Linked DNA regions of Homo sapiens: region 1 is linked to region 2. The links come from fine-mapping of genetic effects on gene expression. A gene starts in region 2. The other region holds a variant in brackets. All regions are shown on one strand. Distances are between the middles of the regions.

Region 1 (8,434 bases), 64 kb before region 2:
AAAGGAATCCTGGAGGGTTAGGGAGCATAGGCCTGTTGCGGGTGGCGGGGTGGTGGTTGCTGACTGGGGACAGGGGCAAAGACTGCTGAAGGGCTCTAGAAATGGGAAAGGTGCTCTACTTCAGTGGGCTGCATAGGGTCAGGGAAGGGGGTGACAAGCTAAAAGAAGAGGCCTGGCTAGGGTAGGGGACCTTCATGGACAAAGAGGCCCAGCTGGGTAGCGGGGGCACAGGCTAGGAAAGAAGTCCTGGCTGAGGGAGGATGCCTGCAAAGGGTCCAGGCTGGAGGCTGGGGCATGGACTGGTGAAGGGTTCCTGGTAGGAGAAGGTGGCCCAGCTGGGGCAGGCTGGAGAAGGAGAGGAAGGGGGCCTGGCTTGGGAAGGGAAGCTGTTTGGGAACTGGGCTACAGTCTGGGGAAGGGGTCCTGGCAGGGGTGGAGTTGGGTGGAGAGAAGGGCAGGAAAGGGGGCTGGGTCAAGAAAGAGTCACTGTCTATACAAGGAGGAATAGGCTGACCAGGGGGCAACTCAAAGGGACAAGATGCCTCGTAGCAACGGGTCTTTGGCTATTGAATGGGGAAATGGCTCTGGCAAACTGCCTGGCCAGGGGAATTGAAGGGAATTGGGAAATTGGGCCTGGATAGGGAAGGGAGCCTCACTGGGGAGGGCACACAGGCTGAAGAAGTGCCATATGGTGTGGAGGGGTCATTGAAGAAGGAAGCCTGGCTGGGATGGGGGGAGGGGGGACCTGGCTGCAAGGGTGGGGGAATGCTGGCTGGGAAAGGTGGCCCGGCTGATGATGCAGGCTTAGGTGACCAAAGGGGCCAAGCATGGGAGTGGCCTTGGCAGGGCAAGGAGGAAGATCTTGGGGAAGAGGTAACAGGCTAGGGAGGCACTGGCAGAGGAAGGGGACAAGGCTGGGCAAGGGAACCTGGCTGTGGACTGGGACACGGGGTGGGGAAGGAAGCCTGGCTGGGAGGGACATAATAGGGTGAGCGGGGGTGGGGGGAGCAGGTTAGGGAAGAACTGGCTGGTCAAGGGAAGGAGGCCCAGTTGAGTTAGGAGCCAAAGGATGAGAAAGGTGTTCCTAGCTGTTAATGAGAGGAAAGGCTGGGGAAGAACGCCTGGCCGGCGGAGGGGACATGGGCTGTCCAGTGGAGTCCAGGCTGGAGAAGGCACTGGACCAGGGAAGGAGATCTAGCAGGAAAGTAAGCATAAGCTGGGGAGGAGGACATAGACTCGGGGAGAAGGACATAGATTGGCGGAGAGGGCGAGACTGAGGAAGGGTCCCAGACATGGGGATGTGCCTGTCTTGTAAAGGGACCACAGTCTTGAGAGGCTGGCACAATCTATGGAAGACAGATGGGTGTGGGGTAGGGAGGATTGTGGGGTAAAAAGACCCCTTAGGGAAAGGTTGCCTAACTGGAGAGCGACTCTGACAGCGGAAGGGGCTGGGGAGGGAGGCACAGACTAGGAAAGGGAACCTGGTGGTGGGAAAGGTTTGAATACCGAGAAGGACATAGGCTAGAGATGGGATCATAGGCAGGTTAGTGGGCCCGGCTGGGAGAGGGGGCCTACCAGGTGGAGAGAGCTTGCTAGGAAAGAAATCATGCCTGGGAATGAGGGCCTCTCCCCCTGACAGGAACTTGGCTGAGGAAGGGCACGTGGTTGAGAAAACGGGCTTAGTTGTAGAGGGGCACACAGGATAGGAATGGGGTCTGGCTGGGGTAGGGGCAATAGGCTGGACAAGGGGCCTAGGCAGGCGAAGGCTGTGGAAGGAGGCCTGCCTGGAAAAAGGAGCACAGACTGGGGCAGAGGGCACGTTGGGTGAGGAGAGCTTGGCTGCAGGAGGGGCATGGCTAGGAACCCTTTCCTAGCCGGGGAAGCAGACTTGGCTTAGCACGGGGCACATGTGGGTGAAGGGATCCTGGTGGGAAAGATTGCATGGCTGGGGAGGCCACTGGGTAGGTGAGGGAGAGCTGAGAGAAGATGCCTGACTGCGGAAGGAGGTGCTGGCTGGGAAAGGCCAGCAAAGGGGCAACTCCTTGGAAAAGTGGTCCCGTTGAAAAGGGGAAAGGCTGGGGATGGGTGCCCGGCTGTGGGAAGGGGACATAGAGTTGAAAAAAGGCCTGGGCTGGGGAAGGGCAGACTGGCTAAGGAGGTTGGGGAATAGGCTCTGGCTGGGGTTGAGTCTGTCCTGGGAGAGAAAGGAAGGAGGGGCATCTGGTTGGGGGTACAGGATGAGGAGGAAGCCCCACCGAGACACAGACTGGGAACCCAGCAGTAAGTGGTTAGAGGGCAGAGAGGTGCGCACAGGCTGGTCAGATGGCTAAGAAAGGGGCCAATCTAAAGAGGACACAGCTTGAGGAAGAGGGTCTGGCTGGGGAAAGGGGCCCTGGGCAAGGGGACATAGGCTAAGCAAGGAAAATAAAGTTGGGTCGTGGAGCCTGCCTGGAGATAGGGATATTGGGCAAAGGGGACCTGGAAGGAGAAGGGGCTCTGGCTGGGGTAGAATTCCTTCATGGTCCAGGACAGGCTAGAGACAAGAGTTCAGGCTCGGGAAGTCTGCCTGGTTGCCAAAGAAGGCCTACCTGTCCAGGGGGCACAGGCTGGGGAGGGGCAACAAGCTGGGGCAGAGAGCCTGGGTAGGGTTGCTGCAGAAGGCAGTACTGGCTGGGAAATGGGGCCTGACTGGGGAGGCCGTATCAGTAGGTATAGGGGAAGCATGTCTAGCAGGGCAAGGTGACGTGACTGGAGAAGTGGCCTTGGCTGGGGAAGGAAGCCTAGCTGGGAGGAAAGGTATATAAATGGATGAAGGGGGCCTGGCTAAGTGAGGTGGCCTGACTGAGAAAGCGGGCATGACTGGGTTCCAGGGAACAGGCAGAATCAGGGCTCCTGATGAGAGAAGGGCAGGCAGCACAGGGTGGGGATCGGGTGGGGAAGGGGGACTCCCTGAGAAAGGAGGCCTAGGTCTAGAAAGGAAATAGACTGAGGAGCAAGGTTAAGGAAGCGCAGCTGCGCAAGGAAGGGAGAATAGGCTGGTGACAAGGACACTCATTGCTGAAGGGAGCCTAGTTGGCATAGGGTATAAGTTGGTATAGGATGAAAAAGAGATTCCTGGCTTTTGAAGAGGGGAGGCCACCTGCCTGGGGGCAGAGGAACTTGCTAGGCAAGGGGTTCACAGGGTATGGGGGGATGGCTGGGGAATGGGCACAGCTGTGGAAGGGTGCACTGGCTGGGAAAGGGGGCATAGGCTGGGCAGGGGTCTTAAGTGGAGAAGAGGCATAGGTTGCTTTAGAGGGCACTGCCTGGATAATGTGAGCCTTGCTGGGGGTGGGGCTGGTACAGCCCAAAAAATTCTGTGACAGATGGCACCAAAGATGGTAAAGTCCCATTTTACAGGCTTGTCCCTGAATACAAGAGAAATAGCTATTCCTATTTTGGGAACCTTTAAGATCTCACTCGGCCCGTCCCCAGCTGCCCCCATTGGGTCTGCCTTCAGCAGGAAGGAGAGGGAAGTGTTAACCCAGGCCAGATCCTAACCATGCCCAGAACACAAAGAGGGGGGTCTCCACTGTGGGATCTGGCAGGACACAAGGGATTTGCAGTTTGTTCCATTCTATAACAATGACTACAGTCACTGAGGACAGGCTATTCTGGGCAAGTTCATGAAAGCCATGGGGTACTGTTCTCAAAAGGATCTAATTCCAGAAGCAACTTTCATTCATTTCCTTACTGTTTTTTATTTATTCATTATCATTCCCTCTCCCCTCTTGCCATAGCAATAAAAAATAAGATGCTTCTTGTATGCAAATTTAGGCTCTGGAGTCAGACATCTATCTGGGTTTAAAGCCGAAATTGCCCACCTACTTCCTAGCTTTGCGACCTTGGATAAGTCACCTAAACTTTCTGGGCCTCAGTTTCCTCATGGATAACATAGGGAGATTAATACTTGTCTTAGAGATATTTCTTCAGGATGTTAAGAACATTAAATGAAAATGCCTCCGGGCGTGATGGCTCACACCTGTAATCCCAGCACTTTGGGGGCCAAGGC[G/A]TGTGGATTATTTAAGGCCAGGAGTTCGAGACCAGCCTGAACAAAAAGATGAAACCCCATCTCTACTAAAAATACAAAAATTAGCTGGGCATGGTGGCACACGCCTGTGGACCCAGCTACTTGGGAGGCTGAGGCAGGAGAATCGCTTGAAACCGCAAGGCAGAGGTTGCAGTGAGCCGAGATCGCGTCATTGCGCTCCAGCCTGGGCAACAAGAGCGAAACTCCATCTCAAAAAAAAAAAAAAGGAAAAGAAAATACATATCAAGTGTCCAGTAAATAAGTGCCCAACAAATGTTAGCTACTATTAATATTATCTAGGAGCCCATGAACATGACATTATTGGCTCTGGCAGCAGCCACTTCTTGATTTTGTCTACAGTGACTTTTGGGGCCACTTGGCCTCTTCCCACAGGTCCTGCAGGGGAAGCAGAGACTCTCCCAGGGCTGTCTGCCCCAGCTGTTGCTATCAGAGCTTCTACTGGAGCTCACCAAAAGTGCCCCTCTGGGGACAGGGTGACCTGCATGGAGGAACTCCTCAGGCTCTTCTTTTCAGGACTTTTCTACACAAACACATAATAGACTCACATGTTTTGAAAAACAATATTGGTGTCATTCTATTGAAATTGGCTTTTAAACTTAACAATACATTATAAACACTTTCTTGTGTCCTTAACAGTCTTCAATATGATGATTTTAAAGCCTGCCTTCTAGCCAATGAATGTGCCATAATTTATTTATTCAATTTTATTGTTGGACGTTTAGATTGCTTTCAATTTCTCACCACTATAAATATGCCACTGTAATATCCTTGCAGCTGAATCTTTGTCTATATTTCTGATTATTTCCTTTTGATAAGATTTGTAGACGTGATCTAGGTCAAAAAGGAGGGGCTCTTAATGCGTACTGGGAAAGACTGCATGAATTTACACTCCCAGGCTATGAGGCTGTTATATTCCCACATAATTGCCAACACGGAAAATTATCATTGTTGCTAATTTGTCAGATGAAAAATGTTGTATTAGTGGATGTTTCATTGATTACTAGTGAGATTGAATATTCCTCTATGTGTTTATTTCATTCATGCAGGAATAAGTATTTCTCTTTTTTTGAATTTCAACTTTATTTTAGATTCAGGAGACACATGTGTAGATTTGTTATGTGGGCATATTGCATGACACTTAGGTTTGGAGTACAAATGATCCCATCACCTAGGCAATGAGTATAGTAGTCAACAGGTAGTTTTTCAGCCCTCGCCCCTTCCGCCTCCACCTCCCCCATAGTAGTCCCAGGTGTCTATTGTATCCATCTTTAGGTCCTTGTTTACCCAAAGTTTAGCACCCACTTATAAGTGAGAACATACGGTATTTTGTTTTCCAGGAACAAATATTTCTTATTTTGTTGCCTATTCCTGAACTTCACTTAATTTTCTCTGAATAAGTTTGTCTTTTTCTTTTTTTTGTTTGTTTGTTTGTTTTTGTTTTTGTTTTTTGAGACAGAGGCTCACTCTGTCGCCCAGGCTGGAGTGCAATGGCACAATCTCGGCTCACTGCAACCTCTGCCTCCTGGGTTCAAGCGTTTCTCCTGTCTCAGCCTCTCAAGTAGCTGGGATTACAGGCACACGCCACCACACCTGGCTAATTTTTTGTATTTTAGTAGAGACAGGGTTTCACCGTGTTGCCCAGGCTGATCTTGAACTCCTGAGCTCAGGCGATCCACCCATCTCAGACTCCCAAAGTGCTAAGATTACAGGCGTGAGCCACAGCACCCGGCCTTCTTCTGCATTTTTAATAGGACCTTCCATATTAATAAATCTGATCACTTGTCATTTGAATATTTTAAAAAATAGTTGGCCAGGCGTGGTGGTTCATGCCTGTAATCCCAGCACTTTGGGAGGCCAAGGCAGGCAGATCATGAGGTCAGGAGATCGAAACCATCCTGGCTACTAAAAATACAAAAATTAGCTGGGCGTGATGGCGCATGCCTCTAATCCCAGCTACTCAGAAGGCTGAGGCAGGAGAACCACTTGAACCAGGGAGACAGAGCTTGCAGTGAGCCAAGATTGTGCCACTGCACTCCACCCTGGGCAACAGAGTCAGACTCTGTCTCAAAAAAAAAAAATAGTTTTTCCTGTGCATTAATTAGCCTTTCAGTTTTGTTTCTTTCTTTTTGCATATGTGTAAGTTTAAAATCATAATGTAAGTTTAAAATCTATTAATCTTTTTCATTATGGTTTCTGTCTTGGTGTCAGTCTTAGAAAAGTCTTCCTTATCCTGAAAATGGATCGATACTTGTGCATAATTTATTTCGATTTTTTAATGCTTTCTCTTTATATTTATATTTAATATATCCACCTGGAAATTACATGGGTGTAAGATAAGGACATAAAGTGATTTTCCTCAATTATGATAGTTAACCAATTAGCTCAACACTATTTATTGAATAATCCACCATTTCACCACTGATTTGAATTGCCACCTTCCATATATATTACATTCTTATACTATAAAAAGGTGAATCTCTTTTAATCAGTGATACAGAAAACCTATATTTTTTTACCTCAGTTTGAAACTGTCAGCTATCCATTCATCCACTCTTTTCATATTTACCGATGATAACAGTGATAAACCATAGCTTAAGAGAGAGAAAAGATGTAGTCCCAGTGCTCACCGTCTAGAGGTGGCAGACAGGAAAACAGAAATAGACAGAAAGCAACATGACCAATGCTGTGATGAGAGGAAGCACAGAGGAAGAAAGGACACTGAATCCGACTTGCTGTGTCAGGAGGCTTAGCAGGAGCTCCCAGAGAACACAACCAGAGCAGAGACAAGAAGGAGTGAAAGAACGGGTGTCTCCTGTTCAGCCTAGCTGAAGGGTAGTTGTGAGAGAGTTGTGGAAAAGAAGCTGAAGAGGGAGGCAGGAGAAGTAACCCAGCTTAAGTAAACATCTGTTTTACTCATAATATTACAAATTAAATGAGATACCATGTTTCATCAGTCAGATTAGCAAAGAAGTAAAGTTTGTTCGTATGCTGTGTTGATGAGGGAATGCAGAAACAGGCACTCTCAAACATTGCTGATGGATGGTGTATAAATGGGTACAATCTCTTTGGAGGGCTATTTGGCAATAGCTATCAAATTTAAAGTGCATAAACCACTATCATTTGTATTTTTAGCAGTTTCCCTTGCACATGATTAGAATATATATTTAAAAGGATATAACTGGTCACTTTTGAGGAGGGGAACCAGGTTCCTAGGGGAAAGGATGGGAGGGGGCTTCTCACTGTGTAATCTCTTGAACTTCTGGTATTTTGAACTATATGAATTAAAAATTTAAACCTAACCTACTTAATAAAATGCACATAGCTTTTGACCTCGCAATATATTGAGGGTATACATATTGTGGCAGGCCAGATCTCACTAACACAGACCTCCATAACAAATGTTTCAGTACTGACTGACGTGGTTAAGTATTAAAAGCCAGTGCCCTTATATAAAGGCTGGGATGTAACAAAAGCTCACCAAGAGTTTTGCCTAGGCCTTTCCTGGGAGTTAAACCATGAAAAAATAATGAAGGAATTTTTTTTTTTTTTTTTTAGATGGAGACTTGCTCTGTCACCCAGGCTGGAATGCAGTGGCACGATCTTGGCTCACTGCTACCTCTGCCTCCCAAGTTCAAGTGATTCTCCTTTCTCAGCCTCCCGAGTAGCTGGGACTACAGGCGCCCGCCACCACACCCTGCTAATTTTTGTATTTTTAGTAGACACGAAGTTTCACCATATTGGTTAGGCTGGTCTCGAACTCCTGACCTCATGTGATCCACCCACCTTGGCCTCCCAAAGTGCTGGGATTACAGGCGGCATGAGCCACTGCGCCCGGCCATAACGAAGGAATCCTTAACAGGAAGCTATTTAGGATTAAAAGAGTTTTATCAGGGGCCTGAAGAAACTCCCCAGGCCTCCACAAACAAGTTTATTGGAGGTCTGAGGGAACTCCCCAAACCTCCATGATTTAGCAGGAGACAAGATAAGGGTAATCACCCCAGCACCTAGACCCATTTAGATTAAGTAAATTTACTGAGGCTCCAGAGGAAGGTCTTCAGGACTCAGACCTTAGTTATAGATTAAAAGCAGTTAATTACCAGGCGCAATGGCTCATGCCTGTAATCCCAGCACTTTGGGAGGCCAAGGCGGGCGGACCACGAGGTCAGGAGTTCGAGACCAGCCTGACCAACGTGGTGAAACCCCGTCTCTACTAAAAATACAAAAATCAGCTGGGCATGATGGGGCATGCCTGTAATCCCAGCTACTCAGGAGGCTGAGGCAAGAGAATCGCTTGAACCAGGAGGCAGAGGTTGCAGTGAGCAGAGATCGTGCCACTGCACTCCC
Region 2 (8,434 bases):
TCAATCCGGTCTGTGGATTTATTCGAGACTTGTAGCTTGGTTTTCAGACTTTAAACTGTCTTTGGTTTGAAGGTCAGGTTTCACAGGGGACCCGCCCCTGTCTGCCTAGGGATTTGTCTGCCTCCTGCTGCTATCATCAGGCTAATAGTATTGTTCAACTATGGATTCGTTCATAATTTGAGTTTGCAAGGCAAAACAGTATAGATGATGTGAGTCCATGGGCAATTATTAGGACAACTGCACCCATAAAACTTCAGGGTATTTGGATGAGGATGGCTACAGTAAAAAGTGCCATGTGGCTGCTTACAGAAGAATAGGCAATGAGATATAGAACAGTTAAGGGGAACTATAATCTTGTAACAGGGTCTACATGATTTTGAAGCAGTAGGCAGCAAACAACTATGAGGAATCAGGTCAGAGGGCAAGCTGACCTCATGAATTCAGCATGAAGCTGAATTTGCTGCGAGTTTGGTTTATTTTTTTTCTCTCCCTCCCTTCTTCCCTGATTAATTTTATGAAGTTTATAGGGATTGTTTCAATTGAAGCTTACACAGCATCCTGAACTACAGAAAGGAATAGGGGCTTGGGGCTTCCTGGGGGCTGGTGGCAACACAAGAGTTATGGGAGAGCAAGGGAAGGAAATGTGTGGTAACAGAGGTTGTCTTGTTATGCAGATAAAAAGTCTTTCAGGTAATAAAACTTCTCTCAAAGCAGCTCTCAGAAGAATAGGTGATTGTCTGGGTGTGGTGTCAGCCTCCGATCTCCTCTCCTGTGATCCAAGTTAATCTTCCCTGGTTGGTAAGATTCCTAGAGAGGGGATTCATGACAATTACATTCCTTTTGGAGGAGCCAGCTTTAGGCAGATAAGGGGAGCTCAGAGACAGCCTCTGCCTGTATCCACTGTTCCCCAAGTGCCCTTGGTTCAAATAATCAGCATACCAAAGTGGCATATTTTGGGATGGCATCTCCTGAACTCCTTCACATGTAAAGTACTTAGCATAGTCACTTGGCAGGATGTGAGCGCTCAGAGAAGGTTAGGTATTATTATGATACAAAGTTATTCATTTAACATTGAGTCTCTCCTACCTACTGGGTGGCAGGTTCTGTGCTAGAGTGAACAAAGATGAGTAAGACACTCTCCCTGGCCTTAAAGAGCTCTCAGTTTAGTGAGAGACAGGTGTGGATAAAGATAACCACAGTACAGTACTATCACAGGGGGATGAATCAAATGCTATAAGAGCTAAGAAGGAGGTAGCCTCGCCTACAGGGGAAAATCAGGAAGTGCTTCCCAGAGCAAGTGATCTTTGAGCCAAGTTATGAGTAATGAATAGAAATTTGCCAGGCACAGACAAGGAAGATGACATTCCAGGCAGAAGGTACCACCTATGTGAATGCATGAAGGCCTAAGAGAACATGATAGGTTTGGAGAACTAGGAGAGTTTGCTAAAGATTCAGCTTAGGATCCACGAAGGAACAAAATGAAAAGGATGTCAGCAGGCAGATTAGAAAGGATCTTAAAGTCATGTTATTGAGTTTGACCTTTAACAGAATGCCCCTCCGGGCCAAAGTTATTCTCTCCATTCCTCTAACACCTTGAACACACCTTTATCAAAATATTTATCAAATTAACATTTGATTATTTGTTTACCTGTCTCTTCCGTGGAACTATGGACCCCTTAAGAGCTTAAACCTCGGGTAGTGTTCGAATTCTCAATGCCTAGCATTCAGGTAGCACACAGCATGTATGGAAAGAGCAAAGGAAGGAATTTCTCCAAGGTCCCACAGCTATTCAGTAGCAGAGTTGGGCTAAAGGGATCCTCCCACCTCAGCCTCCCAAAGTGTTGGGATTACAGGCGGGAGCCACTGCACCTGGCCAGATTAATGCTTTTTATATTGTGTTACTTAGAGCCCTTGAGTCCCTCACCTGGAGTGCCACTCACTGAGCAGGTTGAGGAAGATGGGCCAGTGGCTGAGTTGGCAGGCTTCTTTGTATCCTCTTCAAATACATCAGTCCTTTTAGAAATTACAGGCTCTCTAAAACTTGTTTTGGAAAAAGAATTATGCTACTACAAAAAGTTTAAGTACCGTTATACTTTCATGATTGTTAAGTGCCCTAAACTAGGATTTTAAAAAGTCTCCCATGCACAACAGGAGTTTAATATGATAAAGTGTTTACACACAAAACACAGCAAACGACTCGTTTTTATTATTCCTTTTTTTCTTTCTTTTTTGTGAGACAGAGTCTCGCTCTGTCGCCCAGGCTGGAGTGCAGTGGTGTGATCTCGGCTCGCTGCAGCCTCTGCCTCCCGGCTCACTGCCTCAGCCTCCGGAGTAGCTGGGGTTACAGGCCCGCGCCACCATGCCCAGCTAATTTTTGTATGTTTAGTAGAGACAGGGTTTCACCATGTTGGCCAGGCTGGTCTTGAACTCCTGACCTCAGGTGAGCTGCCCACCTCGGCCTCCCAAAGTGCTGGGATCACAGGCATGAGCCACCACGCCCGGCCATTATTCCTTTTTTTCTAACCACTTTTTAATCTTGGTATTCTTTCAGAATAAGATGAAATGCAATGCTTAAAATGACAACTCTAATATATAACAGGCACTCTGAAAGTAATTGGCATCTCCCATAAAGACCGTCATTTTGGCTGGGCACACTGAATCACGTCTGTAATCCCAACACTTTGGGACGGTGAAGCGGGTGGATCACTTGACCTCAGGAGTTTGAGATCAGCCTGGGCAACATGGCGAAACCCCGCCTCTACAAAAAAATACAAAAATTAGCCAGGAGTGGTGACTTGCACCTGTAGTCCCAGCTAATTGGGGGGCTTGAGGGTAGAGGATCACTTGAGTCCAGGAGGCGGAGTTTGCAGTGAGCTAAGATCGTGCCAATGCATTCCAGCACTCCAGCCTGGGTGGCAGAGTGAGACCCTGTCTCAAAAAAAAAAAAAAAAAAAGACTAATTTTGAAAGCCATAAAAAATGACTTACAAAGTTTAAGACCAAATTAAGACTGTGCACATTTTTTTCCTCTTAAGTAACAGTAAAGACATGTTTTAATCCAAGCAAATGCAGAGAAGCAAATTATCTTTACTCTCACAATTACTACATTTCTAAGTCTCCTCCACAAGTACTATCTTTTTCTTTATATTCCCTGCCAAGCCTGACCCTGAAAGGTCAGTTTACTAGAGGTGCCAGATAAACCAAATAGGTAATTCGCCAAAGCCTCACTTCCTTCTTAGTTTATAAAGCAGGGGTTGCAAGGGAAGGTTTATTAGAATCACCTGGGAAGCTTTTTCAACCTACATGTGTGCCACAGCCTCCTCTCCCTCTTAGGAAGCACTGTTCTAGTTTGGGGCTTCAATCTGTCCCACATTAAAGGTCTTCATCTTTCTAAATCCTACCCAACTGAAGGTTAATGGAGTAGAAACAATTGAACGCAGAAGTCACTGACTTTGTCACAAACTGGCTGGACAAGTCCCTTAACCTTTCTGGTCTCAAGTTTTTCCTCCGATTTTGGGGGTTCCCTTTAAACTTTGACATTCTTCTATGTGACCGCATGTCATGTCTAAGAAGCCTTCTGAACTACTCCTAGCATGGGATGACTTGCCCTTTCTTGCTTTTCCAACAGCCTGTGCAATACAACATATCACCTATTTTATACTGTCCTATATTGCCCTCTAGTTGTTTTTTAATGAAGCTTTTTTTCTTCTCAACGATATGTAGTTTAAAATACTAGTTTAAAAGTTTATTTTCAGGGGTAGACAGTGTGCCTGCTACTTAAATCTCCTAGGACAATTCAGGCTGCGTCCTAAGGTAATCAGTATGTATTTATATTGCTTTGTTCAAAACAATGACGTCCCTTCTTTGAAGTCCTGAAATTATGTTTTCCATCAGTTCTGTCCAGTAGAAATATAATGGGAGCTACAAATATAGTTTTAAATTATCTGGCAGGCACATTTACAAAGTGAAAAGAAAGAAGTACAATTAATTCTAATAATATATTTAATCCAACATATCCAAAAGACTATCATTTCAACATGTAGTCCATGTAAAAAGTATTTACATTTTTCATTCTTTTTTTTTTAAATGTCTTTGAAATCTGGGGTGTTTTTTACACTTGCAGCACATCTCGATTCAAAATAGCCACTTTCAAGTGCTTAGTAACCACATGTAGCTAGTAACTACCTACTGAACAATGCTGTTCTGCATAAGTTGGCTGCTTTCCAAACTGATCACTTTTTTTTTTTATTCAGATAATGACTGATACTGAGTACTCAGGCTAGCCAGAGTGGTGCAAAGATGAGTCAAATTCATTCTGATAAGAGAGATTTGTAAGTCACTAGCAATTATACAGCGTGGTAGGTGCCATGATAGAGATGCATAGGAGAAACCCAGACTTGGCGGCTGAAGGGCACAGGGTGGAAGGCGGTAGAGAGACAAGGAAGGTTGCACAGAAATAACATTTGATGTAGGAACTAAGTGCACGAAGGGAAGCCGGCTGTGCGGTGACCGGAGTTGCAGGTTGCCAATCTTGCTGAGGGGGGCTCCACCGGACGCCGGCCTACGGGTCGTAGGCGTGTGTGGGGTGAAGGGGGAAGAGGACGGGAGAGGATTGGCTGGGAGGAACCCGGAGCTCCATCTGGTGGGTGGACGGAAACCGCAGGGGGGCGCTACTTGCACTTCGCGCTCAAGCGACCGGATCTTCAAACCGTGGGAGTGGTGCGGCGGCTAGAGTCCCTGGACTCCTCAACCTAGGGAGCTACTCGCGAGGTAAGGGGCGCGCCAGACTGGCTCCTAAAACGCACTCGCTCGTCCGCACTCCTCGCGCTCCGAATTCAGCCTCGCCTCACCCGGGCTTCAGAGCCCACAGAACTTCTCAGCCCCGTGTCGGCGACGAGGAGCTCATGGTAAAACAGCGCCTAGGGTTTTGCTTGTTTGTTTGCTTTTAACAGATGCCTACGACTTGTAACGGGCTGCCTGGTAAAATGAGTCTATGGAAACGGTTGCCAGGGCCGGCTAACAGCGGCTCCCGGAAGTCCTTTGATGCTTTGTTAACAGTGAAGCTACTGGACCAATGAGGTGCTTCTTCCGGTTTTGTCCGCGCTCGCCTAATTCTTCTTTATCAAGGTTGCCTTTGACCCCGGAAAAGAGATCTTCCGGGTTCCTCTCTCCCCAAGATGGCTGCTGAGGACGAGTTACAGCTGCCGCGGCTCCCCGAGCTGTTCGAAACTGGTAGACAGTTACTGGACGAAGTAGAAGTGGCGACTGAACCCGCCGGTTCCCGGATAGTCCAGGAGAAGGTGTTCAAGGGCTTGGACCTCCTTGAGAAGGCTGCCGAAATGTTATCGCAGCTCGACTTGTTCAGGTATGGGGGAAGATAGTAATAATGGCTGAGAACGAAGGTAATAATGGTTACCAAGGGTGGAGCCATTGCGCCTGAGTGGAGGGGACCTTTAGTGGTGAGAACGTTTCGTTCCTACTTACCACTGCGATCTTGTGTACATTGTTTACATTCCCCACCTCTCTTCCCAGATGGTTGATATCTTACGACTCTGCTTCCTAGCGTCTGCTGATTGCATAGGCATTGGGTGTGAGCCCTCAGCCACTTTCATTGAGTGAAACTGGCCGCTGTTCCCCGTGCCTCCTCCCTCTGGTCCACTCCCAGCCCAGCCTCCCACTCCGTCCCCCAGAAAGCAAGGGCCACAATTTGAATGCCTAGTCAGGCTTCACTGCCTCCTTTTTGCTCTTCCAGCCGAAATGAAGATTTGGAAGAGATTGCTTCCACCGACCTGAAGTACCTTTTGGTGCCAGCGTTTCAAGGAGCCCTCACCATGAAACAAGTCAACCCCAGCAAGCGTCTAGATCATTTGCAGCGGGCTCGAGAACACTTTATAAACTACTTAACTCAGTGCCATTGCTATCATGTGGCAGAGTTTGAGCTGCCCAAAACCATGAACAACTCTGCTGAAAATCACACTGCCAATTCCTCCATGGCTTATCCTAGTCTCGTTGCTATGGCATCTCAAAGACAGGCTAAAATACAGAGGTGGGTCAATAGCTATAATATGAGGCCTGCCCAATGGCGGTGCTTTTCAGGGGCATGCTTTCTTGGCGGGTGGTGGGGGGCCAGAATGGTATGTGTCACTTTCTTGGTTCTTATTGAGCATAGGCCCTAGGGAGAGCAAACTTTCCTGAGTTTTTCCAAGAAGCCTCTGCTTTTGTTGAGATGATTATACCTACTTATCAGACCCTTACTACCTTATGGTTGGCAACAGCAGCAATGTAGTTTAGCAGAGTGTCTCCCAACCTTTTCCACATCACATCATAGCAATGTTCATATGGTACAGTGGGGTAGATGTCTCTGAAAGGCAAAGCTAGGCCATTTTATGGTCCACTGATTGAGGAGCTCTGTTCAGACTACTGGAGTAGATGTGTAACATCCTGAACTGATCTTAGTCCTGGCACAGCTTCATTGTGTGACCTTGGAAAAGTTGCTTACTTTCTTAGGTTTTTTTTGTTGTTGTTGTTTGTTTTTTAAACAACATTTAATGGGTGGTCATGATGTCTAGGAACTATGCTAGGCACTGGGGATACAAACTGTATAGGTATTTGTGTGAGTATGAGTGGTCCCTGCCTTGGAGGAGCATACAATCTGGTGAGGAAAACGGGCATAGAAACAGAATATCAATATAAACTGATGTTGTGGAGGGATGCACAAGGTACTATGAGAGCAGACAGGAAGGGCACCTAACCAAAGGGAGCAGGAGAGAGGAGAAAGCTCCCTGGAAGAGGTGACTCCTGTGCTGAGTTCTTTAAGGGTAAATAGGAATATCCAGGGGAAGAGGAGAGGAGGGCATTAGCCGGCAGAGTATGTAAAGCCTTAGTAAAGCCACAGAGGCATTAAAGAAACAGTGGTGGGTGGAGATGTGTAGACCAAAAACAGCAGCTATGAGCAATTAGGTGATGGTAGAACACAAAGAGGGTGGTGGTAAGGGGGAAGGAATGATACTGAAGAATGTTGTAGGGTCCACATCAAGGAGAGCCTGGGATGTGAGGAACGTGAAGAGAAACTTGTTGCTGAGAACTTGGTAAGGTGTTTGAATCCCAGCTCGACGACTGTGATTAATCACTGTGATTTGTGGTAAGTTATTTAATCTTTCAGTACCTTAATTTCCCCAGCTGCAAAATTCAGATAATAATAGGTTCTTCCTCATAAAGTAGTTTATGAGGATTAAAAGAGAAATATATATAAAGCAGTTAGCCCAATGTTTGACACAGTAAACACTCAAAGTCAACTATTATTATTTGTGGCTAAGAGTATGGGTCATAGAGTCAGAGACCTGGGTTTGAGATCCAGCTTTACTTATAATCTGTTGGACTTTGGGGAAGTTATTTAACCTAACTGAGCCTCAGCTTTCCTCATATGTGAAATCTAAGTAATAATGGTACAGATGGTCCCCGATTTGCGATGGCTTGTCTTAGAATTTTTTAACTTTATATTGGTGCAGAAGCAATACACAGTCAGGGGAACATCAATAAATTACATGAGTTATTCAACACTTTATTATAAAATAGGCCTTGTGTTAGATGATTTTGCCCAACTGTAGGCTAATATAAGTGTTCTGAGCATGTTGAAGGTAAACTAGGCTAAGCTATGATGTTCAATAAGGTGTATTAAATGCGTTTTCAACTTACCATATTTTCCATTTATGATGGATTTATTGAGATGCAGCCCTATTGTAAGTTGAGATGCATGTGTACCTATCTCAGGGTTAATAAGCACAAATGGGAAAAATCACATAAAACAGCACAATATCTGGCATGTGGTGAGTATTCTGTAAATGTCAGCTGCTATTAGGTAGGACACGCCAAAGAGCTTACTCTGGTTGGTGACTGAGATCCACTGAAGAGTTCTGTTTCTTTTTTCTTTATTATTATTATTATTATTATTATTATTATACAGAGTTTCACCCTTGTCACCCAGGCTGGAGTGCAATGGTGTGATCTTGGCTCGCTGCAACCTCCACCTCCTGGGTTCAAGCAATTCTGCCTCAGCCTCTCAAGTAGCTGGGATTACAGGCACCTGCCACCACGCCCGGCTAGTTTTTGTATTTTTAGTAGAGATGGGGTTTTGCCGTGCTGGCCAGGCTGGTCTCGAACTCCTGATCTCAGGTGATCTACCCACCTCGGGCTCCCAAAGTGCTGGGATTACAGGTGTGAGCCGCTGTGCCCTGGCTGTTTCTTTTCAAATAGTAGCATGATCACATTTGCATTTTAGCTAGTACACTGTACCAGCAGTTAGGAAACAGTGAGGGAAAAGATTAGACCCAGTTAAGTCACAAAGGTGACTAGGGTTTACTATTGCAATGGTAGAGGGATGGGGGAGTACATTTAGGAGGGTTGAATCTACAGGAAACCTGGTGATCAATTGGTTG

Evidence for each region.
Region 1: its variant is fine-mapped to the expression of IGBP1 in blood mononuclear cells (TOPMed, PIP 0.98).

What each region holds. Positions count from the first base shown.
Region 1 is chrX:70,065,270-70,073,703 of GRCh38, forward strand. No RefSeq gene overlaps it. Among named protein-coding and RNA genes, the nearest start is that of OTUD6A, 7.0 kb to the left of the region's middle. The variant G/A (reference allele first, on the strand shown) is at 4,052.
Region 2 is chrX:70,128,772-70,137,205 of GRCh38, forward strand. It overlaps IGBP1 (immunoglobulin binding protein 1), which reads left to right and starts at 4,676. Exons shown (of 7, transcript NM_001551.3): 1 at 4,676-4,769; 2 at 4,952-5,364; 3 at 5,752-6,045. The coding sequence starts at 5,177. It also overlaps the pseudogene MTND4P31. RefSeq lists an enhancer at 5,095-5,554.